Regions from separate parts of the Homo sapiens genome. Here all the other regions are linked to region 1. Evidence: fine-mapped QTL for protein levels in blood plasma. A gene starts in region 1. Each other region holds a variant in brackets. All regions are shown on one strand. Distances are between the middles of the regions.

Region 1 (8,272 bases):
ATCTCGGCTCACTGCAAACTCCATCTCCCGGGTTCAAGCAATTCTCCCACCTCAGCTTCCCGAGTACCTGGGACTACAGACCGGTGTCACCATGCCCAGCTAATTTTTGTATTTTTAGTGGGGACAGGGTTGCACCATGTTGGCCAGGCTAGTCTCAAACTCCTGACCTCAGATGATCTGCCTGCCTCAGCCTCCCTAAGTGTTGGGATTACAGGCATGAGCCACCTCACCCGGCCCCTTAATCCATGTTGAGTTGATTTTTGTATAAGGTGAGAGATGAGGATCCAGTTTCATTCTCCTACATGTGACTAGCCAATTATCCCAGCACCATTTGTTGAAAAGGGTGTCCTTTTTCCACTTCATGTTTTAGTTTGCTTTGTTGAAGATCAATTGGCTGTAGGTATGTAGGTTTATTTCTGGGTTCTTTATTGTTTTCCGCTGGTCTATGTGCCCATTTTTATACCAGTACCAGCACCATGCTGTTTTGGTGACTATGGCCTTATAGTATAGTTTGAAATCAGGTAGTGTGATGCCTCCAGATTTGCTCTTATCCCTTAATATTAAATACTATAATTCTGAATTATCAAAAAGCCTTTAATACTTAACTTTATTTCTGGGTTTTGAGAGATACTTATTTACTAAAAATAAACCATTTTATCACTTCACATAATTTTAGTTCACTGGTTAATTCTATTAAATATTTAAAGAACTAATCCCAAGCCTACACAAGCTCTTTCAGAAAACAGAGCGTGGAACATTTCCCAACTAATTCTATGAGGCCACTATTACCCTGATAAAGGCATCAAAAGAAAAGAAAACTACAGAGTAATGTCCCTTATAAGCTCAGATGCACAAATCCTTAACAAAATATTAGCAAATAGGATCCATCAATACAAAAAAGGATTATGCACTGTGACCAAGTGGAATTTATCCCACATAATTTTGGAGGTTATCTTCCCATGTAATTTTGGGGATAACCCTCCCCTCCCATAATAAAATGTTAATAAATTGAACTCTGGATATCACTTATGGCTTTGTCTAGACAGTGAAAACTTTAACATAAAGTCATTGTACTGATGGGAAACTATTATTGTTGTATTAGAGTAATGAGAAGCAGAGGATGTTGAAAGGAGTCTCAGTTGGTGTGGGAGTGGAACTGCCCTATGTGTTCTTCTTGCCTGCTGCATAGATAGAGCCAATTTACTGAGACAGCATTACTGCAATACAGAAAGAGTTTAATAAATGCAGAGCCAGCTAACAGGAGACTGGAGTTTTATTGCTCAAATCAGTCTCCCCAAAAATTCAGAGACCAGGCTTTTTTAAGGATAATTTGGTGGGCAGGAACTAGGGAGTGGGGAATGCTGATTGGTCAGGTAAGGGATGAAATAATAGGCTGTTGAAGTGGGTTTTCCTTGCTGTCTTCCGTTTCCGAGTGGGATCACAGAACTAGCTGAGCCAGTTTACTGGTCAGGGTGGTGCCAGCTGGTCCATCAGAATGGGGGGACTGACTGAAACATATCTCTAACACCAATCTTAGGTTTTCAATAGTGATGTTATTCATAGGAGCAACTGGGGAGGTTGGGAATCTTATGGCCTCTGGCTACATGATGCCTGAGCCATGATTTGTAATCTGTAGCTACTTTGTTAGTTTTACAAAGGTGCGCTGGTCCCCAAGCCAGGAGGGGGTTTGTTTTGGGAACGTGCTGTTCTCATCTTTGTTTCAAAGTTAAACTATAAACTCAATTCCTCCCATAGTTAGTTCAACCTACACCCAGGAATGAACAAGGACACCTTGGCGGTTAAAAGCAAGATGGAGTCAGTTAGGTCAGATTTCTTTCACTGTTGTCATTTTCCTATGTCAGATTTTTCTCACTGTCATAATTTTTGCAAAGCCGGTTTTAGAAGAATCAGGGACTCAGGCTGACTCTAACAGGAGTATGATTTTGTGTCAGAGAAGAGGGCAGTTATAGAGGAATGTTCCAGAGGGAGAGGGAATGGAATGTGTAAAATGAACTTCTCTGTCTATTCTAATAAAAGGAGGGCTAGCCAGAAAGAAAGAGAACCAGAGGGAAAGAGCAAGGACAACCTACAGAAGCTTCTCCTTTAAGACCATGTATGAAACAATGAATAAAGCCCTCATCCACGCTGGCAGATGCTTAACAAGGTCAGTTTCTCTTCCCTTTAAGGATAATAATTTAAAAATAATCATACCATCTAGTAATTATATTTTACCTCTATTTAATCTTTAAAAGATCAGAATTAGGTTTCCTTTCCGTACTTCACAAATAAGCAGCACATCTGGCCAGCTCCCAAGAATTCGTCAAGGGTTATAAACATTGCATGGGCTGGACTAATTGTGGCTACTTTCATTCTCTCTGATAAGTTTCATTTCCTTCCCTGAAACTTCATGAACTTCCTTTGGGGTATAGCTAATGAAACCATGTGGGATGGGCTGAGACCTTTATCATCTTCAGACATTTGTGTTAAATTGAATATTGTGATGTATCTTTTATGGTCAGCCTTATCACATGCTAGCTCAAGGAGAACAGTTGCTAGCTCAGTTCGAGGCTGCAGAAAAATGGAAGAGAATGAAAGATGATTCTTGCCTTTGTGCAGTTAGCATTCTAGTTTGAAAATACAAACACAATGCACATAATGTAACATGTGACTACAAATCTGTAACTACCATGCATTGAGCAACTACTATGGGACAGACATTGTGCTTACATAAACACACACACTTTAATTCTCACAAAAACCAGGGAGGAGATAGGGTTAACCCCCCCTCCTGCCCCCACCCCTTTTATGAGAAAACTGAGACTTAGAGAAATTGACTCCCCTAAGGTCACCTAGCTAGACAGTGGTGGAACCAGGTTTCAAACTCAGGCAGAGATGTTCCAGGACAAAAGCAGCTTCAGTGAATAGTTGTAGCAAGTTTTAAGGACTGAGAAATTTATATTGAATTTTTCTGCGGCCTTAGGCAAGTTATTTCATTTATAGAAGCCTCGTTTTTCCTTATCTGTGAAATGGCTCTTTCTTCATTGGGTTGTTCTGAGAGTGAATGAGATGATGCATGAAGCCCGGCAGCACATTTCAAATGTATAATAAAAGGTCGGTAAGGTCAATAAGTGAATCAATGAACTCACATCACTGGTAACCCCTCGAACTCACATCACTGGTAACCCTCAGAGGGGACTCAGGCTCCTCAAATCTCAGGATCTGCGTCGACTACAGACCTCACTGTTTTTCTTAAACAAAAATCCTGAAATCCAGGCTGGGCGCAGTGGCTCACGCCAGTAGTCCCAACACTGGGAAGCTGAGGCGGGAGGATTGCTTGAACCCAGTAGTTCAAGACCAGCCTGGGCAACACAGTGAGACCTTGTCTCTTAACAACAAGTCCAAAGGGAATCATGGCCTCCACAATCCCAGTACAGCTAAACAGTTAACTGCCCACGTTCTTTTCCTTAATTCTATACAACCTCCCTGGGGTTTCTGGTTCTTTGGCAAGTGAGAGACGTGCTCCTCAACACTGGGTGAGCACACCGGGCTTGAATTTTAAAAAAGGAGAATCCGCCGGGCACGGTGGCTCACGCCTGTAATCCCAGCACTTTGGGAGGCCGAGGCAGGCGGATCACTTGAGGTCAGGGGCTCGAGACCAGCTTGGGCAATATGGTGAAACCCCGCCTCTAGGAAATAATTTTTAAAATAAGCTGGGTGTGGCGGCGTGCGCCTGTACTCGAGGAGGCTGAGGCATGAGAATCGTTTGAGCCCAGGAAGTCGAGGCTGCGATGAGCGGCGATAGCGCCACTCACTCCAGCCTGAGCGACAGTGAGACTGTCTCAAAAAAAAAAAAAAAAAAGTAAAAGCTCTCAGGGAGCGACTTTTCCCTTGGATAAGGCAGCCACACGCTAAGTCCCCTCTCCATCGGGGACCCTGGGGACAAACAGAACGGTGCGCATTTCCCTCCCCCGTCCCCATTCGGTCACTGCCACGGGCTGTACACCTGAGGGGGAAGGACGGGGGCGGCGGCGCGAGGAGGAAGGGCTTCGCCGCCAATCTGTCCCTAACCAGTCTGCCTCTCAACCCCTGCCTGAGGCGGAGGCGGTGCCCGGGGCGGGCCAAGCGTGACCGCGGGTCGGCGGGGCGTGTTTAAGACCGCGGCGTGCGCACCCGGCCCACGCCAGCTCCCGGCCGCGGCACAGCAGCCCCGGCGCTCCCCGCGCCGCCCCGCGCAGGCGCCCCCGCCCCGCCGTCGCCGCCGCCGCAGCCAGGAGCCGCTGCACCATGCCCCGCATAGATGCGGACCTCAAGCTCGACTTCAAGGATGTCCTGCTCCGACCTAAGCGGAGCAGCCTCAAGAGCCGAGCCGAGGTGGGGGACGTTCGGAAGTCGCAGTGGGGTGGGATTTTTTTTTCCGGGTGGCGCGGGGCAAGTGGGTGGAAGGGGGTGGCACCGGGTTACCCTGCCTGCTTTGGTGTTTGAGACTGGGGCGCTGCGCCCCCGTTCCCGCGCCCCAGCACCTGCCAGGACGTGAGGTGTCTTTAAGGGCGGTGATACGGGGGCCCATGAAATTCTCTACACGTCGGTCCCGTTGGGTGGCCTAGGGGAAGTTCACAGTGAAACTCGACCACAGATGAGCGAGATCCAGTGGCCAGTTGGTTTAGAAGGAATAGGGGTACGAGGGCGCTTATAGCAAGAAAAGGAAACTGGAGCTAGGGGAGAGAGGACGAGAAAAACAACTGCAGATCCCGGTGATTTTTGGCTGCGTCTCCTAGTGCTGATAATTGCTGCTGCTTTCGCTTCGGGTCCAGCGGTGGAACTTCGTGAACGCGTCTGAAAAACCAGAACCCAGGGCACAAGTTCAGGGTTTCCTTTCTGAGTTTGGCGGCCTTGCTGGCAGTGGGGCTTGGGGACTCAGCGGTACTGGACAGCCCGCGGTCCCAGCCTAGCCCTGGAGAAGAGTTTCGAAAGCTTTGGGGTGAGAGAGGTGGGGGCGAATTGGAAGCCTCGGGCATTTCCCTGGTTCTGCCTGGATGTCCTCAAATCCTAAGGAACAGGTGGAGACCGGACTGGAAATAGCCTGAGGCTGGGGGAAGGGAGGCCAGTCCCTGAAGGATAAACTAGTTGCCTGAAAGGCAGAGTGCCCCGGGGTGGTGTGCGCTGGTGACTGGCTTTGCTGAGAGCTGGAGAGGAAGGTGAGGAAACCGGACACGGTTGAAGGCTGGGGCTGAAGGAGTAAACACGAGGAGGCTGGGCCAACCTGCACAGCTCCGTCCACTCAGCTCCACAAACAAGACCATAAATAAATCCCCTCAGCAAAGAAGTCCGCTGCCCACTCCGGTGCCAGGCCTAACTGCAGTGCCTGGGGCTGCCAGCCGAGGGCTTGCTTGGATTGGGGAAGCCTCCGCGTTAGCCAATGACTAAACCAAGTGGCCTTCTGTAAGCAGCAGCATTGGCTGGTTTGGAGCCCGGCAGGACTGGAGGACGTAGGGGAGGAATGATTAAAACTTATCGCCCCAGATTGGGTGACCCTGTGCCTGTCCCTCATGACCTTTCAGGTGCTAAAGAGGGGGCCTCTCTTGGAACAAAAACAGTTTGGAGGGCAGGCCTGGGCCTCTGGAAGCATGAGCTGTAGCCAATTCCTAAGGCAAGACCAAGATGAAATAGGGGGATTCTGGATGTGCTAATAATTTGGTGGCCTCAATATTCTTTAAATATTCAAAATGTATTTAGAAGAGAGAAACTCATTTTTCAGAAAATTGGATGTTCAAAACAAAGATATACCTATTTTCTGAACCAGAAAACATGTTGAGAAGGTAAAATATTGAACATTAATGTAATAGGGCCAGGCACAGTAGCTCACACCTGTAATCCCAGCACTTTAGGAACCTGAGGTGGAAGGATTGCTTGAGGCCAGGAGTTCGAGGCCAGCCTAGGCAACAAAGCAAGACCTCAGCTCTACAAAAATTTAAAAAATCAGCCAGGGCAGTTGTGCACACCTCTAGTCCCAGCTATTTGGAAGGCTGAGGCGGGAGGATGGCTTGAGCCCACGAGCTGGAGATTACAACAAAAATTTAAAAAATTAGGGCAGTGGTGCTCACCTGTAGTCCCAGCTACTTGGAAGGCTGAGGCGGGAGGATGGCTTGAGCCCAGGAGCTGGAGGTTACAGTGAGCTATGATGGTGCCACTGCACTTCAGCCTGGACAACCCTGTCTCTAAAGCTAAAATGAAATTTATGTAATAGAATGAATTACTCCTTCTCGGGGAATACTATCACATCATGCGACAATGTCATGCAACACTTGGCTTCATAATTTGGGCAGATTGTAACTAATGTTCCAGTTTGGGATAGCATCTTTGCAATCTTCATGTACACATTGCAGTGAGAACTCAGTGCCCTTGAGGAGTCTCTTTTGTATTTTTATGTTCGTGGGAGTTTGCCAGCCACGGGCCTGGAGACTCAGGTTAACCAGCATTGCCTTTCTAATCGGTTGCCGTGATGGTTTAGCTCCCTGATGCGTGAGGCTGCTGCCTGGCTGGCCACCCCCATGATCTGACTTTACTTGCCTCGGTGGCGTTGAGGGATCTAGTTAGGCCTCCCTAATCCCCTCTCAATGTTTTCTCAGTTTGCTTGTTGATGCCTGAAATTTTTCACAGGCAGATAAAAACTTTTCCTTGCACAATCAGAAGCTTAAAATATGTGCATCCTGGCAGAAGTAATATCTGGAGGCAAATTGGAAACTGAAGGGTAGATGACCGACATTGAGCCTAACAGCAGATTTGTACAGAGCCAGGAAAGAGAACGTACACCCTGGGAGTAGAGTCTGGCTGAGGGAGGAGGGTTTTGACAGCTGATGATGGGCTTATCCTCGTGACAGTTTTGCTAAGAGCCAGGCCCAGCAATGGATCATCAGGCTATAGCAGGAAACGGACAGTAAGAGTGATCTCCCCCTCAGAAGCTTCAGGACTCCTGCAAGGACATTTCCACCAGCCTTCCATAAATGAACATGAATGAGATGAATCTGAGGTCACCTCTGAGAGGCAAAGAATACAGGTAGCAGTGGCCCAGGTGGCCTTCGCCTGGATTCTCCAGGGAGGCATTCATCTCTCAAATGTCCAGCCCCTGGCATGGAAGAATAAAGCGCCACAGGGTCATGTGGGGACATTTGGATAATCTTTTTCTGAGAAGTGATGAGTTTGTGGATTGAGACAAGACCTTTGTTTTCATCTGTTACGCTGGGGAGCCTGCATTCTCCCTGAGTGTTTTCTTCCTTAGTACCCATTTCTGGCTCTAACATTCTACTCTAGTCCTTAAGCTAGTAAGAATGTACTTATTTATTTATTTATTTAGAGACGGAGTCTCACTCTGTCACCCAGGCTGGAGTGCAGTGGTGTGATCTTGGCTCGCTGCAACCTCCGCCTCCTGGGTTCAAGCGATTCTCCTTCCTCAGGCTCCCGAGAAGCTGGGATTACAGGCACCTACCACGCTCTGCTAATTTTTGTATTTTTAGTAGAGATGGGGTTTCACCGTGTTGGCCAGGCTGGTCTTGAACTCTTGACTTCAGGTGATCTGCCTGCCTCAGACTCCCAAAGTGCCGGGATTACAGGTGTGAGCCACTGCACCCAGCTGATAAGAATTAAAACAAAAACAAAAAATAAACCCCTAAAAAACTTATTAATAAATTATCAGGCATTGAAGAGAATCGCAGCAAATTACTCATTTTGTTTAAGGACAGAGAAGACACAACAGATGTTCAGTCTGCTTAAAACTTCATAGCAGTTTTTTCCCCAGCAGTCCCGTGAGAAGAGTTCTGGTCTAGCTTTCACCGTCTGCTACTGGTTGGCCTGAGGGGGATGAGAACATGGCAGAGTGGCTGGGAGGAAGGATACCTGTGTTTTAGTCCAAGCTCTGTCACTAATTACTTTTTTTTTTTTTTTTTAACCTTTGCCTGTATGCTGGTTTCCTGGGGCTGCTGTAACTGAGGACCACATACTTGGTGGCTTAAGTAACAAGAATTTATTATCTTACAGTTCTGGAAGGTAGCAGTCCCAGTCCAAGATGTTGGCAGGGTTGATTCCTTCTGAGGGCTGGGAGGGAGATTCTGTTTCTTGCCCTTCTCCCAGCTTCTGCTGGTTTGCTGACAGTTGTCCCCAATCTCTGCCTTCATCTCCACATGAGGTTCTCCCTATGTGTGCATCTGTGTCCAAATTTCTCCTTTTTATTTTATTTTTTATTTATTTTTTTTGAGAAGGAGTTTCGCTCTTGTTGCCC
Region 2 (8,272 bases), 72 kb before region 1:
TGTGACCTCAACTCTAAAAAAAAAAAAAAAAAAAAGAAATTCATTTTATATATTGAATCATTATTTTGTAAGTTGTGAAATAAGCAATTGCAGTTTTCATTATGATTTTTCCCCAGTAACCAGGTATTCTAATTTTTAAAAAGAGCTAGAGGGCAGGGATTCAGAAAGATGACACGCCCTCTGCTTTTCCGGCTTTTGGCATTGTGTGAGGATGTAATGCATGGAGCTGCTAATGCAAGCTTGTGAAGATGAGGGGTGCTAGCGCATATGATGAGGATGGCAGACCTGATAGGTGGAAAGATCTAGGTCATCCTGACAACATTAAGCAGCTGAACTCACTGATCCCAGAGCCTCAGGCCACCCCACCCAGCCCTTACCATCTCCTGTCCTACTGCCATGGGAGGTAATACACTTTTTCCTTATTGTTGAAGCTGCTTTATTTGATTTTCCTATTACCTGCAGCCAAAAGCATTGTGATTAATACACTGGTCTCGTGCTGCTGGAAATGAATCATGCCTCCTGTAGGGTTGTATCCAACAACAGACACATGGCAGGTGTCTGTTATACCATCCACAAGATACAATGTGTTTGTTTTGCAGAAATTGTCTCTATCACCTGTGGGCTTTTGCTACCCATAGAGCTACTTGTACCTAATTCAACCAATAAAAATAATGCTAGAAACTGAAGCCAACAAAGCTGTCAAAATTTGTCTTGGGTTCTTGGGTTAGACAACTTGTTGAGATTTTATAATACATTTCCTTTTCTCTCCTCTTTTTCTAGGTTCTTTCCTGCTGGATGCGAAACACTCAATTATCACTTCCTCATGTGTGTAGTCTCCCTCACTGAGTCAGCTCTCACTGGGGCCTTCCCATGACTTGTTTGTTGTCTTTATCTGTCTGAAGCCTCATCTTCCTTTGACATTTATCTTCATCTGGAAATTCTATAATCTTCCTTTTCCTCTTGTCTTGATCTTACATAAAATCAACATTGTCCATTGAAAGTTATGTTTAAGAAGCATTGTTAACAAAACTATCATGAAGTCCCTTGTACCTTGTTAAAAACCACTGTATTCATAACTTTGTTGTTTTTTTCAAATATATTTTTCTCTGGATTGAAACTGCTTACCATTCAGGTCATTGGAAGTCTCTTCATTCCCATTAAACTCTTTTTCAGGTTTGACATCTTTGTCCTCTATTAACTCAACTTTGAGTATCTCCTTTTTAATCCAACAGAAAAAGCTCCTCCCCTATCCTTCCAGCCCCATGACTGTAAGATAAAAAATTTCCTGCTACAGGCATCTTGCAGGCAATGTGCCAGACAGGCAATGCATCAAACAGCCGACATTGATCAGAACTCAGCCCTTGTCATATATCTCTTCCTAAAATGCCTAGCAGAATAATTTGTTGAGTACATGCTCAATAACTTAAATTGTTTTGAATTAAATCAAATTAAAGTCTTACAGTCACTACTGGAGGGAGAACAGGCAACATGTATGAATTTTCACTGTTTTGGAGCACATGGAAAAGAACATCAATACTAGTAGCATCTCAAGATCCCAGTGGCTAGACCCAGCCTACACACGACAGTCAAAATTTACTATTTATGATGTGGATTATCTCATACTAGTCCATTGCTTCACTTTCTACTGACTGACACCTCTGGCACATTTCATCCTTTTTCTTCTTTTTCTTTTTTTAGAGACGGGGTCACCCAGGCTGGAGTACAGTGGCATAATCATAGCTCACTGCAGCCTCGCTCATGAACTCAAGTGATCCTCCCACCTCAGCTGACCAAATAGCTGGGACTAGAGGCATGCCCACCACACCCGGCTAAGCACCTTTGATTCTAATATTGAAAATATCATTATAAAATATCTAGTAGGTATGGATTAATGAATGAGTTAAATGGCAGATGTTTGACCCTAATAAGTAAAGGTTTCGGGACGCCAGGGAGATGGTAATATCTGGGATCTTCTTAGGCCTCATTACCAGGACATAAAGAAACAAAATGAAGTTTCTCAAAATGCCCATTTAATACATTATTTTTTATCGTAATAAACATACGGCCTTTTCAGATCTTATTTTTGTTCCTTCTATTGTTAGTCCTGAGTGTTTGCCTATGGTGACAGCCAGATTTCATTTCATTCATTCATTCATTTATTCATTCTGACCATCATCTGGGGGCCAAGCACTGTGGTGGGTACTCAGGGTGCACCAGTGAACAGAACAGACAAAGCCCTGCCCTCTTGGAGTTTACATTCTAGTGCAGGCAACATGGGAATATAATAAATCCATAAACTCAGGAAGAACTTAGTTCTTTTTAGATCAATAAGGCCTGACTGTGAACTGTGAACTGTGAAGGGACAGATTCCCTGAAGAGGTACCGAGACCTCATTTTAAAAGAAGACTTTTTATTTTTGGACATTCTTTAGATATTGACTTTTTCTGTTCTCTAGTAGAAGTATCTTGCAGCAAGGAATAGAAAGACTGAAGTCAATTGATGCGATATTAGGAAAGTCCTGTCTTTTGCTTCTCTGGGCCCCTGTGTGGACTTCTGTGAATGAAAGAATAAAAAACAAAGTGCTTTTCCTATGCTCTTACTCAACAACAATCAACACAGAAGACTTCTGTGACCTCTGGGCACGAAGAAGTTTGTGGAGATTTCTCCCAACCAGCAGCCAATCAATCAATCCAGCAGAGGACACTAGCTGGGTGTCCTCTTATTCAATTCAATTCTGATGCTATCTACCTGGAGACAGCATCAGATCCCACAGGTTGAGGGCTCAGTCCCACAAAACTGCCCTCCACCGCCCCAGGATCCTCTCCTTTTTTTAGGGTCCATTGATTAGCAACCTTAATTCTATATGGAACCTTAACTCCCCCCTGCCAAATGAGGGGGAAAAACACACCCAAAGCGTTCCCTCTATTCTCTCACTTAAACAATCAACACAGAAGACTCCTGTGACCCAATTGAGGAGGTGTTTTTCCCATCCACCAAGCAAGCAAACAATTCCTCAGTGGACACCAGCTGGGTGTCCTCCAATTCAATTCGATTCTGATGCTATCTACCTGGAGAGAGTGTCAGATCCCAGAGATTGAGGGCTCAGACCCATAAGACTGCCCTACCCCCAACACACACACCTTCCCATGCAGATCGCAAGCCCCAGGTTGTATTATCTGTGCTTCTGACCAACTGGCTATACACTAGGGTTCCCACAACCCCGCCGGGTTCCCTTAATTTGTTAGGGCAGCTCACAGACCTCAGGGAAACACTTAAGTTTTCCTGTTTATTATAAGGGATGTTACAAAGGATACAGATGAAGAGATGTGTAGGGCAAGGCATGCAGGAAGGGACACAGAGCTTTCGTGCCCTCCCTGGGCACACCACCTTCCAGGAACCTCCACTGTCTGGAGGTTCAGCTACCTGGAAGATTCCAGAACATAGTCCTTTTTGATTTTTAAGCTTCATTAGGGAGGCATGATTGATTAAGTCATTGGTCATTGGTGACCAACATAATCTTCAGCCCTTCTCCCCTTCTCAAGGTTTCGGGGTGGGGCTAAAAGTCCCAACCCTCTAATCTTGCCTTGGTCTTTCTGGTGACCAACCCCATCCTGAAGCTACCTAGGAACCGCCCCTATTAGTCAATTCAATAGCACATACAAAGCCACTTATTACTTTGAAGAGTCCAAGGATTTTAGGAGTTGTATGCCAGGAAACTGGAGGATAACCAAGTACTGTATATATTTCACAATATGACAGCCTCACTTTCCATTATAACAAAATAAGGAAATTAGATAATCAACAAGGCTCTCTGTAGCTCTGAAATATTAACACTGTGATTTTATGGAACACATATAAGAAATCCTCTAGCTTTTTTTATTTGACTTTTCCAGCAGTTAACGTGTTTTTTTAAATATCAGAAATCTAAGTGGTCAATACTCTTCTTAAATGAGTTTGTCTATCAGATTACCTCATTTTATAAATTTATTATAGAGAAGTTGCTGCAATCTTAGCATTTCTGTGAATTGGAGACCATGATTCAGACTTGTTGATGAGGTCCAGAATAACTGAGGGACATATCTCAGTAGGGTTTAGATTGTCAATAAACGAAATCAAGGAGGTATCTAAAGGAGTTCTGATCTTGCTTATTAGAAAAAGTTCAGGAAACACAGCAGAGAAATAAGTTAAAAAAAAAAATCTCTGGAGGCAGTAGGATCTGACCAGAGAAAACAACCACTAAAATGTTCACAAGTGCCAGGGGGAAGGAGGTAACATTCCTCACATTTACAGACCTTTGAAGCTCATTTTAACTTGGGAACTTTATGGACATAAGGATAAATCCAGGGCTGCCTGGTTAAGGGTCGGGTCTCATTACTCCCTAGTTAACAATTCACATTTTAAAATGAAAGAACCTGATTTAAATGTAATCCTGTCTTTAGGCTTGAAGACAAGTAAAATGCTATTTTTATCTAATACATAAGTAAAAGCAAGAAAATCCCCTCCAGAGAGTGGAAG[C/T]TGTTCATGGCTCTATTGTAATTTCTGTCTGCAAATGTGTGAAAGAAACTTTCAAGGGAAAAATGTTCCAGAAAGTAACCTTTTAAACGTTAAACCACTGCACTTTAGAAAGCAAGATAAAGAGCTTTGTACCCCAAGCTATTTCTCTGTTCCTTTTTTCTTGAGCTAAACCTCCTGTGTAATAATTTCTTTGGAATGCTTTGTTCTGAAGAGATGTTTCATGCGACTGGTGCCTTGTCTCAGTAATCAAAGACACACTGAGTCAAATTTGGCCTTTGGAAAACAACCTGGATAATGACTGCCTGTAATTATGTAAATGTTTAGATAATAACTGATTTTCAATTTAATTTGATGGAGACAAAACTTAGCACATCCTTACCCAATGCCTCTCCTTGTAAGTGGCCACTGTGTCTTCTGGGTAACTTGAGAACCTGGCAACAATATCAGGAACATAGTAGGTGCTTTATAAATAGTTAGTAGATGAATGAATGAATGAGTGAATGCTTAATAAATGTGCTTGATCTGATCCTAAAACAATTTTTTTCCTTTTAGAAATTCAGCCATTTAGTCATCATTTTCTGAAGCATATTTCAAAAGTATACTAATATTGAAGAGTAATTAATAGAAAGCAACTGACACTATGTCTTTGTTAATGCTGCACCCCCTTCCCAAATAAATTTCATGGTTTATGGCTCTCCAGAGGCGAGGGAACAAAGCCACTTGGGAGAAAAGTATCTGCTGAAGTTTTTGGTTTTTGCTTTTCTAAAACTGCCTCAAATTCAGAAAAAAAGGCCATAGTTTTCATGGCTATGGGGTCCACACTCTAGTCTCCATGCAGAATCTTTCCCTAGTGACTGGACTTGTTTTGGCAGCCCTCAGGGTAAATTACTCTCCTCGATAGCCCTCAGCAATCACAGAGGCTTATCTCAAATTCTTCTTGTCGAAATGGGATGTGTACTTGGTCTTACCACTTGAAGAAAAAATGTTTAAACACTGCACAGTTTACCAGATCTTACTTTGAGGTGTTCTCTGGGGTTAGCCAAACAAATGGAGAAGGTCTAAGTAAACTGTTCAAGACTTTCAGCCAACGCTGAAAGTGCAGTGCTGGAATTGCCTGACCCCAGAGAGAGGGTAACTCTGAGCGTGCAGTTTCTAGATCAAGGTCGGGAGGTGCTGACCACAATGGGGCCATGGGTGGAGGGTGATGCCTTAGGCACCACTGAGGAAGTAGAAGAAAGATCTAACCCTGGAGGTATCTTCCTCCTGATTTTTTAGTTTTTCTGGAGAGCCCCTCAGAGTGTGGGAAAGTGTGTAGTGGACTGGGATTTGGGAGTGTTACCTTCCTTCCAGCGACCCTCTACTTTTCTACCCACTTCTTGCTGATACAAAATCTCCAGGTGCAAAATTTCTTGGTGACCTCTGTGCCCCGCTGCAAGCAGCTTCCATAGAAGGCAGATATGACCTCAGCATTACACACAGGCATTTTTAAAAAATAAAGGATGCTATTTAAATTAAGGAACAATTTAAGCAAACAAAAGACAGAATAATAAACAGACTCTATGTGCCCACTACCAGGAGTAAACAGACTTGAACATTTTGCTTATTGATATGGTCTGGCTGTGTGTTCCCACCCAAATCTCATCTTGAGTTGTAATCCGAACTGTAATCCCCAGGTGCTGGAAGAGGGAACTCTTGGGAGGTGATTGGATCATGGGGGCGGTTCTCCCATGCTGTTCTCTTGTGATAGTGAGTTCTCAACAATATCTGATGGTTTTATAAGGGTCTGTTCCCCCTTTGCTCTGTGCTTCTCTCTCCTGCCACCTTGTGAAGAAGGATGGTTTTGCTTTCCCTTCTGCCATTATTGTATAAGTTTCCTGATGTCTCCCCAGCCATTTGCAGCTGTGAGTCAATTAAACCTCTTTTCTTTATAAATTATCCAGTCTGGGGCACTTATAGTAGTGTGAAGCCGAACTAATACACTTACTTACTTTAGGCCTTTTTTTTTCTTTCTTTTTTTTTTTTTTAAGAAATAAGATTTTATAGAGTTAAAAAAAAATCCTCCCTCAATTTAAGTATCTGCACAGCTATTCTTTCTATTCTTTTTTATCTTTGAATTGCTCATAATTAAAATCAAAATAATTTGTATATTTGTAAATTGTTTTGATTTTAATTATGAGCAATTCAAAGATAAAAAAGAATAGAAAATAATACAATGACTATATACCCACCATTGAGATTACATGCATGATACTATTTTGCCTTATTTGTTTTAACCTTGTTCTAAATTTTTATTGTGGAAAATTTCAGACACATACAAGAGTAGGAAGAATAGTATAATGAGCTCCATGGACCCATCACCCAGCTTCAACAATTGTCCACTCATGGACAATCTTGTTTTATCTGTGGGGTAGTTATAGATAATATAGATTCTACATTCTCCCATATGTTATTTATCTATACACATTTCGTCATGTATCTCTTAAAGAGAAGAACGTTAAAAAAAATAACTGCAATGCCATTATCATACTTAAATGTAGCGATAATTCACTAGTGTCTGCTATTAGCCAAAATCCAGTCAATGTTCAAATTTTTTCATTGTAAAAATAATTTTTTTTCAATTTTTGTGTTTGAATCAGGATTCAGATAAGGTCTACACCAAGCTTAAAGCCAACCTGCAGCCTGCAGGCCACACAGGGCCCTGGACAGCTTTGAATGCAGCCCAACACAAATTTGTAAACTTTTTTAAAACAGTATGAGTTTTTTTGCAATTTTTTTCCTCTTAGCTCATCAGCTATTGTTAGTGTTAGTGTATTTTATGTATGGCCCAAGATAATTCTTCTTCTTCCAGTGTGACCCAGGGAAACCAAAAGATTGGACACCCCTCATCTACATATTGACATTGATTTGACAGAGACAGTTATACCTCTTTCTTTCCAATTTTTATTCTTCTAATTGCTTGTTCTTATCTAATTGCATAGACTAGGACCTCCAGCCCAGTATTAAATAGCAGTGGAGATCATGGCTATCCTTTGTCTTGTTCCTCACTTTAATGGAAAGTCTCCAGTGTAATCACGTTAAATAAGATGCCAGCTTTTGAGCTAAAGTATACACACACACAGACATATAATCACATGTATAACATATTAAAAATCACATATGAATATAAAGTATACATTATTTATATATTTCAGTAAATGTTGTACCATATATAACCATATATAATGATATATGTAATTATATATAATCATACGTATTTAAAAAACAAAATAGTCATCAATGTATATTTTTAAGTGTTAAGTTTATCAGGTGCGTTATCTACCTCTGTGAAGATGATTATATGACCTTTTTCTCTTTGTCTTAATATGAAGGATTATGTTATTAAATTTTCTAATAATGAATCCCTCTTGTTAAAGATGATGCTGATTCTTGTAGCAACTAGAATTATAAATGGAAAAGGCTACAAATTATCTCAGAAAAAGAAATCTAGATCTCCTATTTGATAGGGAAAGAGAATTTATGTACCATACATGTGTGTGACTAAAATAATCAACTACTGATGTTTAATTTTTTAAATCTCCCTGTATAACAACTATAATTAGACTTGAGTTTCATATACACCTTTCAGATGCTATTGCCAAGTACATTCCCAGTTTTTAAATATGTTTCTATTCTTTAGCAGAGTAAACAGCAAAAGGTGCTAGAAGGCAAATAAATGTGCAGGGAGACAGAGCAACACGTGCCCAGAGTATTTTGTGCT
Region 3 (8,000 bases), 47 kb after region 1:
CTCCCGAGTAGCTGGGATTACAGGCACGCGCCACCACGCTCAGCCCATTTTTTTTTTGTATTTTTAGTAGAGGCAGGGTTTCACCATGCTGGCCAGGCTGGTCTCGAACTCCTGACCTCATGATCCGCCCGCCTCAGCCTCCCAAAGTGCTGGGATTACAGGCGTAAGCCACCGTGCCCGGCCTCCGAGTTTCCTTTTACGTCAATGCTGAGAGGTCTCCTAGATGGGGTTAGGAGTTCCATTTAGCTGGAAAAGCAAATGAATGGACTTAGTAGAATTTGGACCTTTGCCCTCAGCTCAGTCCTTGTAAGCAGCTGAGTGTCTTGAGGTTCAGAGCAGCCATTGCCCCCACACTCCCTTTGTCTAACAGGGCACGGGCACGTTTCTGTCACTTGCCAGTAGCCCTGAACCTGCTAGAAACCCACCAGGTGTTTTGGATCCTGCCACTTGGTCCAATTTCCTTCCAGCTGTCCCATTTTACCCTTTATTTGCTGAATTAGCACACTGGTGCCATTGAAGTTCAAAGGAAGCCACAACATGGTGTCTGTTGAGCATGTACTGATACCCAAGAGGCTGGGCTTCAGTCGTGTTTCTGTTGTGGCCCACATGGGCTTCAGAGAGGCAGAGGGAGGAAAAATTCAGGATACTTCCTGCATAGGTGAAGATTAAGGTGGGACCAGTTAATTTTTTGTTATCACACCATTATTTAGAAATACCTAAACAAATTCATTCAAATAATTAATCTTTTTTTTTGAGTCTGGAAAATTTTCCCAGCAAAATGTGTTTAACCTAGGAAAAGTTAGAAATGCAAATAAACATAAAAAGGAAAATAAGTATTAGCAGTAATGCTATCATCTTAAGATAACCACTGGTTCTAAACTTGTTTTTCCATTTTTATAGCTGTGTGACCTTAGGAGAGTTGCTTAACCTTTCTGAGCCTCTTTCCACCGTCCCCGCCGTCTACGCAATATCTCCTTCAGGTTCATGAGTTTGAATGGAAAAATGACTTTTAAGTTCAAAAGAGTTGCTGGTTCTTAGTAGGTGACTGATTTGAACTCCTTTCTCTGCCTACTCCATGTTTGCCATACCATCCTTCCTTTGTTTTAGGAATAAGCAAGTATTTTTCTTTTTTCCTTTTTGTTTTTTCATTGTCAGTATTCAACATAATGTGAGCAAGTATTTTTTTTTTCTTTTTTTTTTTTGAGACAGAGTCTTGCTTTGTCACCCATGCTGGAGTGCAGTGGCATGATCTCGGCTCACTGCAACCTCTGTCTCCCAGGTTTAAGTGATAGTCCTGCCTCAGCCTCCCGAGTAGCTGGGATTATAGGCATACGCCACCACACCCAACTAATTTCTGTAGTTTTAGTAGAGACAGGGTTTCACCATGTTCGCCAGGCTGGTCTTGAACTCCTGACCCTAGGTGATCTGCCTGCCTCAGCCTCCCAAAGTGCTGGGATTACAGGTGTGAGCCACTGTGCCTGTAGCCTGAGCAAGTATTTTTAAGCAAAAGAGGCAGGCTGACAGTTCACAAGTTATCCTTCATGTCCTGTGATGCCATTTGTACTTAAATATAATGTTAACTCTTTTGGAAAAACAAAAAAAGGACTCCTTGTACATTACTGCTTTGAATACTTGCACAGAACAAACAAATTACAAGCCCAAATGTTGTTGTTTTTAACAACCTTTCAGCAGCTATGAATGTTTATGTGTGAAGATGCATGTATGTCTTGATTGCTGGAGCTACACTGCTTCCCGAGAACATGAAAGGACACTTTGAACACTTTTGGAAATATAAACAGTAGCAGGAAGTAGACTGCCATGTCTGTCCTAAGGCATCATGTGAAGTTGGATTGCTCTTGGTTAAATGTACAACCATTAACCATATACAGTTGTTTGGTCTACGCTGACCATTTCACAAGTGCACATACAAAAGCACCCTGTGAGCGGATGACGCCATAAATATGATTTCCTCTTTGCAATACGCCATACAGTTGTATTAACTGTGGATCTCTTGGCCCATCCTGGGAAGAGAAAGGCTGATTTTCTTGGGGTCCCAGTGGCACAGGGCTCCTGATTCAGGCCTCATCACAGACCACAGTAATAAGAAATTTTCAGGACACCACAGGAGACACAAATGAGTGAACAAAAGAGTGATTTTTTTAAAAGTCATACATGTGTAGGACTTATTTTAATGGGAGCATGAGTTTATTTAATGTGTTTGAGGCCAGAAGTGTGAAACACTGTGTAGAGCTGGTTTTGATAAAGAGATAAAGCACTTTAAAATTAATTGGCAGGGCAAGCGAAGGGCATTTTGAGGTTGTACCTTTGAAAGGTAAAATAAATAAATATGCCAGGATTTTGAAGCATTAACAAGGGGTATAGAGCCACAAGCCCTGTCCCTGTCTTCACACAGTGGGTTTGGGCCAGATAACATACGGCAAGACCACCTCTGAAATAATATTCCTCAGTGCTCTGTGGCCCTCTGGGGGTCAGAGAAGCCATGTATGAATAACACATTTGATTGAGGAAATAACTGTGGTCAGTAAATGTTTGTAAAGAAAAGGTCCAGCCTTCACACTTAACCTTTTGATCAGAGCTGCAAAGAAGTAGTGAAATAGTATTGGAGTTCTAGCTCCTGGAGTGACAGGCCTCACTGGTAGATAGAGAAAGGGAACTGAGTCACAGAGACCCTATGTTCTCAGTTTGAGATGTTCTTCACAAGGTGGGTCATCCCATTTCCCTGCTCTCCAACTCCAGAGGTGTGTGCACTTTCCTGCAGGTTGTAACACGGGGTAGCCTGGGCACCCTGTCTTTTCTCTATTCCTTCCCAAAGTGGGTCCCACCTTCTGCGGACAGGTGCTTCCCTCTGAGGTCCTGCTGTTTCTCCTAGACCCACACTTAGCTTTGGGCTGTGTCACTGTCACGTGAGCCCTGACACTGTTGCTGTCTCCCCTTGCACCATGGCTTTCGTGACTGTCCCCGTGTGTCTGGCTGCTGCTCCAGCGTACTGTTGCTGTCCTTTTGCCCCTTGAATTGCGCCCAGGCTACATTAGGAATAGCAGGTAGCAGCCTGGGCATTTGGTGTCTTGTGTTTGTAAGAAAATGCAGCTAGTGGCTGGGCGCGGTGGTGCACGCCTGTAATCCCAGCACTTTGGGAGGCCGAGGTGGGCGGATCACCTGAGGTCAGGAGCTCAAGACCAGCCAGGCCAACGTGGCGAAATCCCGTCTCTACTAAAAGTACAAAAATTAGCTGGGCTTGGTGGTGGGCACTTGTAATCCAGCTACTCAGGAGGCTGAGGCAGGAGAATTGCTTGAACCCAGGAGGCAGAGGTTGCAGTGAGCCGAGATCACGCCATTACACTCCAGCCTGGGCGACAAGAGTGAGACTGTCTCAAAAAAAAAAAAAAACAAAAAAAAAAAAACAGAAAAGAAAAGAAAATTCAGCTAGCTCTGCATCCTAGAAGACTTGTACTGTGTAGCTGGAGTTTAAACATTACCCCCAACAGCTGAACCTTGCTGGGCAGCCCAAGATAACAGACTGGCCCTGCTACACATTAAACCAGCCCAAGTGTGGTCTGCATGGGCAGTGTGGGTGGAAAAACAGATGTTTGATTTTAAGGTAACTTTGTACCATACATGAGGAATAGGAAACATGGAGGTACCTGGAAAGATAAAAGGATTAACTCAATGTCCTTTTCTTGGCTCTTACAAGAATTCAACCCTTGTACTAAATAAATCTCACCTCACACCAGGCAGAGAGGGAAAGGTGACTCCTGAGTGAGAATGAGTGTGGACAGTGGAATGGCTGGGTGTGTTATGTAGGGGGCTGGCATGGGATGAGGGCTGAGCCCCTCTGCCGCTCACAGCCCCTGCTGCCTCCTGCTCTGCAACAGAAGTGTCTGAGCCCAGGCAGGCAGGTGGGCAGTGGGTGGTGCCAGCTTCTGACCCACAGAGGAAGCCTGGATGGGCCTGGGGAGTGAAAGGTGCAATATTGAGGGGAGTACACTCGATCAGACAACAACAGCCGTGGTAGGGGAACTTGGGCCCGTGGGCTTGCTGGGGGCTGTGGTGGGTCTGAACCCCCAGTCACTAGGTCATCTGGGGGGAGGGGACAGCCTGGCTGAGCTCCCGCTGATGATGTCCTGTCCTTGCTTTTTCCTCTGTGAAGGATGGAGGCTGTACGTGTCCAGGGGATGTCGCCAAAG[C/A]CTTTGGTAAGGCCGGGCCCTGGTGCAGAGGGAGGGAAGGAAGGAAGGAGGGAGCTCCCTACACCTCTCCAGCTGGCAACCTGAATGAGGAGGGGGACCTGGTGGGGAAGTTCTGGGTCTCCTGGAGGTTCCTCTCCCTGGGTTTCAGCCCCAATTGGCCCAAATCCTGGACCGTGGCAGAGCAGGTCACAGATGCCCCAGGAGATATCTAGGGGTGACGTCCTGCAAGCCAGGAGTGGGTGAAGTCACGGCCTTTTCATCCCAGGGAAGAGAAAGCTCAAGGGACCTGTCCAAGGGGATGGTGCCAGGTGTGATGTGTAACAACTACAGAGGGGGTTTTTTGGACCCAGCTTGGAGAAGTCCCGTGGAAGGGACAGGAGGAATCCCGCAGCGGTTTCTCCCTGGAGGCTGGAGCCTGCCTCCCGCTAGGGGGCAGCAGTGCCTGCTGTGAGCCCGTGGGATTGGGGATGGGGAGCGGTGGTGGGAGGGCAGCAGGTCCTGAGCTTTTCTCTGGAAAGCACTAGACGCTCCAGCCTCTCAACACCACAAGCAGTAAAGTACGGCTGCCGAGCCATGTGTTGGCCATAGAACTGCAAATGGCATTTGGAAGTCAGAGCTGGCCGCGTGGCTGTGGGCTCCAGAATGTGAAATGGGCGTTGTGGGTGCCGGCGGGAGGCAGAAACGAAGCTCCCATGCCTCCGCCCTTTGCTGATGCCAGAAAAAAAAAAAATGGTGGCAGGAAACTTTATGTCATAGGAATTCTGTTTTTTTGTTTTTTGGTTTTTGTTTTTAATTTTCAGGCTGGGTGCGGTGGCTCACACCTGTAATCCCAGCACTTTGGGAGGCCGAGGTGGGCAGATCACTTGAAACCAGCAGTTTGAGACCAGCCTGGACAATACCCCATCTCTACTAAAAATACAAAAAAAAATACCGGGGTGTGGTGGTGCACGCCTGTAATCCCAGCTACTCAGGAGGCCAAGGTGGGAGAATCGCTTGAACCCGGGAGCCAGAAGTTGCAGTGAGCCAAGATCACGCCACTGCACTCCAGCCTGGGTGACAGAGTGACCCTGTCTCAAAAAAATATAAAAAATAAAAATTAAAAAATAAATGGTCAGACAACAACCCTGATAGTGACAAAGGAAAACACAGGGCAGTGTTCTTAGCAACAAGGTTTCATAGCAACCCAAAGATGTCATGAAAAATGGTATTTAACCTCCTCCTAATCATAGATCCTATCTGTGGAGAGGAATCTACAGACCCTCCACTGATTCCAGCTTCCTATTTTATAGTTGAGGGGACTGAGGCTGTAGGAGGGAATGACAAGGTCACAGCCCTACAATCAGGGGCAGAACAGGGAGAATACAGAGCCTCTGCTAACTAGTGCTGTCACTTACCCTTTATTGTAAGGATCATTGGCCAAGGGCATTTTTATGATTGGTTTTTGAGCTGAATCTACTTAATACAGGTGGTGGTCCATCTTGGACTCTTTTGTGTTGCCTCACACATGCTCTCTGTACAGAGGGAGAGCCAAACACACTTTAAAGTGACTGGTCGTTGAGAAGTGCCTTGTAGATCACAGTTCCTGGCCTTTGGACCACACTCAGCTCAGTCTCCTTTGGGTGCCATTCCCTCCTCCACTGTCTCTCAGTCAGTGCGGCCGTACCTGTGCCGAGACTCAGTGGAGCGAGAGGGACCTTGTCAGGGAAGGATGCAAGGGTGTCCCGAAATGAAAATGGTTGGGAACCCCCTCAAAGCATTCTTTAGTGGGTCTGTGCTCTGCGTTCCTGCTGTTGACATCTGCTCCTTTGCAGCTGCCGCAGAGGTGCTGTGCTCCTGAATTGTCAAGAATCCTGGCTGGACACCAGTTATCCTCTGCCTCCTTAAAATCATGGCAGGAGGACCAGGGAGTCAGCATTCGTGTTAGGAACCCTGAAAGGGGAGGGTCTTAAGAGGTTGCTGCCACTTAGGAAGGTTGCGTTGTGCTTTGCTTCCCTGAGTGCTAGAAAAGCTCGCCTTTCTGTCATGCTGAACTGTAACGCCAATGAAAACCTCAGAGTGCTCTGCCAATGTTTAAATGACCAAATTGAAGGCATCAGGGCCACTTTCAGGGGTTCCTATGTTTCCTCCTCCTGATTAGGATTTGCCAGGCTCCCCTCCTCCTTCATCCTATTACTTAATACATCTGCGCCCTGCTACTGTCTTGTTCTGTTCTAAAGGTAAACCCTCAGTAGGGCTTACTCAGGGGAGGCTGTAGTGAGAGGTGACAGCCCTCACAGCCCTCGCTTGCTGTCCACGCCTCCTCTGCCTGGGCTCCCACTTTGGCAGCACTTGAGGAGCCCTTCAGCCCGTCTCTGCACTCTGGGAGCCCCTTTCTGAGCTGGCCAAGGCCGGAGCCGGCTCCCTCAGCTTGAAGGGAGGTGTGGAGGGAGAGGCGCGAGTGGCAACCGAGGATGCGCGAGGCGCTTGCGGGCCAGCTGGAGTTCCGGGTGGGTGTGGGCTTGGCAGGCCCTGCACTCGGAGCGGCCGGCTGGCCCTGCCGGCCTCAGGCAATGAGAGGCTTAGCACCCGGGCCAGCAGCTGCGGAGGGTGTGCTGGGTCCTCCAGCAGTGCCAGCCCACTGGCGCTGCGCTGGATTTCTGGCTGGGCCTTAGCTGCCTCCCTGCGGGGCAGGGCTCGGGACCTGCCGCCCGCCATGGCTGAGCTTCCCCGCCCCCTCCACGGGCTCCTGTGCGGCGGGAGCCTCCCTAATGAGCGCCGCCCCCTGCTCCAAGGCCCCCAGTCCCGTCAACCATGCAAGGGCTGAGGAGTGCAGGCGCAGGGCGTGGGACTGGTGGGCAGCTCCATCTGCAGCCCCAGTGCGGATCCACTGGATGAAGCCAGCTGGGCTCCTCAGTCTGGTGGGGACGTGGAGAACCTTTATGTCTAACTCAGGGATTGTAAATACACCAATGGGCACTCTGTATCTAGCTCAAGGTTTGTAAACACACCAACCAGCATCCTGTGTCTAGCTCAGGTTTTGTGAATGCACCAATCCACACTCTGTATCTAGCTAATCTGGTGGGGACGTGGAGAACCTTTGTGTCTAGCTCAGGGATTGTAAACACACCAATCAGCGCCCTGACAAAACAGACCACTCACTCTACCAATCAGCAGGATATGGGTGGGGCCAGATAAGAGAATAAAAGCAGGCTGCCGGAGCCAGCAGTGGCAAACCCTTCTGGCTCCTTTTCTTTGGGAGGGTGATTTGTTGTTTCGCTCTTTGCAATAGATTCTGTTGCTGCTCGGTCTTTAGGCCCACACTGCTTTTATGAGCTGTGCTATTTGCCGGGAAGGTCTATAGCTTCATTTTTGAGCTAGCGCAGACCCCAACCCCACCAGAAGGAAAAAGCCTCAGCCGCGCCACCTTATAGAGCTGTTACACTCACAGTGAGAGTCTATGGCTTCATTCTTGAAGTCAGTGAGACCAAGAACCCACCAGTTCCGAACACAGTAGCAGTTCCTTAGTTAATAGGCAATGAAGAATCCCACTGCACAGTGATCCATGAACAAAATGGGGAATGATAACTTTTTTTCCCACGTTTTTACTTTTTTGACAGCTAATCATTCAGCGTCTATCATGTGCTGTGCACTTTGGATCAACATAGAACCAGCCCTGGGCCTGTTCCAGCATAGCCCACAAAGACAGGCAGCTTCAGTACCTCTGTCTCCTGTGCCTGTCCTGGAAATGTGCTGTCATTCGGTGATTAGTCTGGCAGAATATGTACTCTGGAAATCTAATGTGCAGCAGCATGGTGC

Which allele goes with the higher level. Alleles are on the strand shown, and positions count from the first base shown. The strength of an association depends on the size of the effect and on how common the allele is. Not every link is listed here.
For the plasma level of the protein whose gene starts at base 4,178 in region 1, allele C in region 2 goes with a higher level than allele T (moderate association).

What was found. PIP is the posterior inclusion probability: the model's chance that the variant is causal. Protein levels are from antibody-based Olink assays in UK Biobank. Linkage for the fine-mapping came from a reference panel and not from the study's own genotypes, which makes the PIPs less certain.
Region 2: its variant is fine-mapped to the plasma level of the GMPR protein (UK Biobank, PIP above 0.99).
Region 3: its variant is fine-mapped to the plasma level of the GMPR protein (UK Biobank, PIP above 0.99). The variant lies in the coding sequence of GMPR. If it changes the protein, the assay may bind it differently, which can mimic a change of level.

Annotation. Positions count from the first base shown.
Region 1 is chr6:16,234,410-16,242,681 of GRCh38, forward strand. GMPR (guanosine monophosphate reductase) reads left to right here and starts at 4,178. Exons shown (of 9, transcript NM_006877.4): 1 at 4,178-4,371. The coding sequence starts at 4,285. RefSeq lists silencers at 3,961-4,060, 4,181-4,280.
Region 2 is chr6:16,162,771-16,171,042 of GRCh38, forward strand. It overlaps a transcript of MYLIP not described here. Among named protein-coding and RNA genes, the nearest start is that of MIR4639, 25 kb to the left of the region's middle. The variant C/T (reference allele first, on the strand shown) is at 4,516.
Region 3 is chr6:16,281,625-16,289,624 of GRCh38, forward strand. GMPR (guanosine monophosphate reductase) reads left to right here. Exons shown (of 9, transcript NM_006877.4): 7 at 4,169-4,211. Among named protein-coding and RNA genes, the nearest start is that of GMPR, 47 kb to the left of the region's middle. RefSeq lists an enhancer at 4,419-4,548. The variant C/A (reference allele first, on the strand shown) is at 4,206.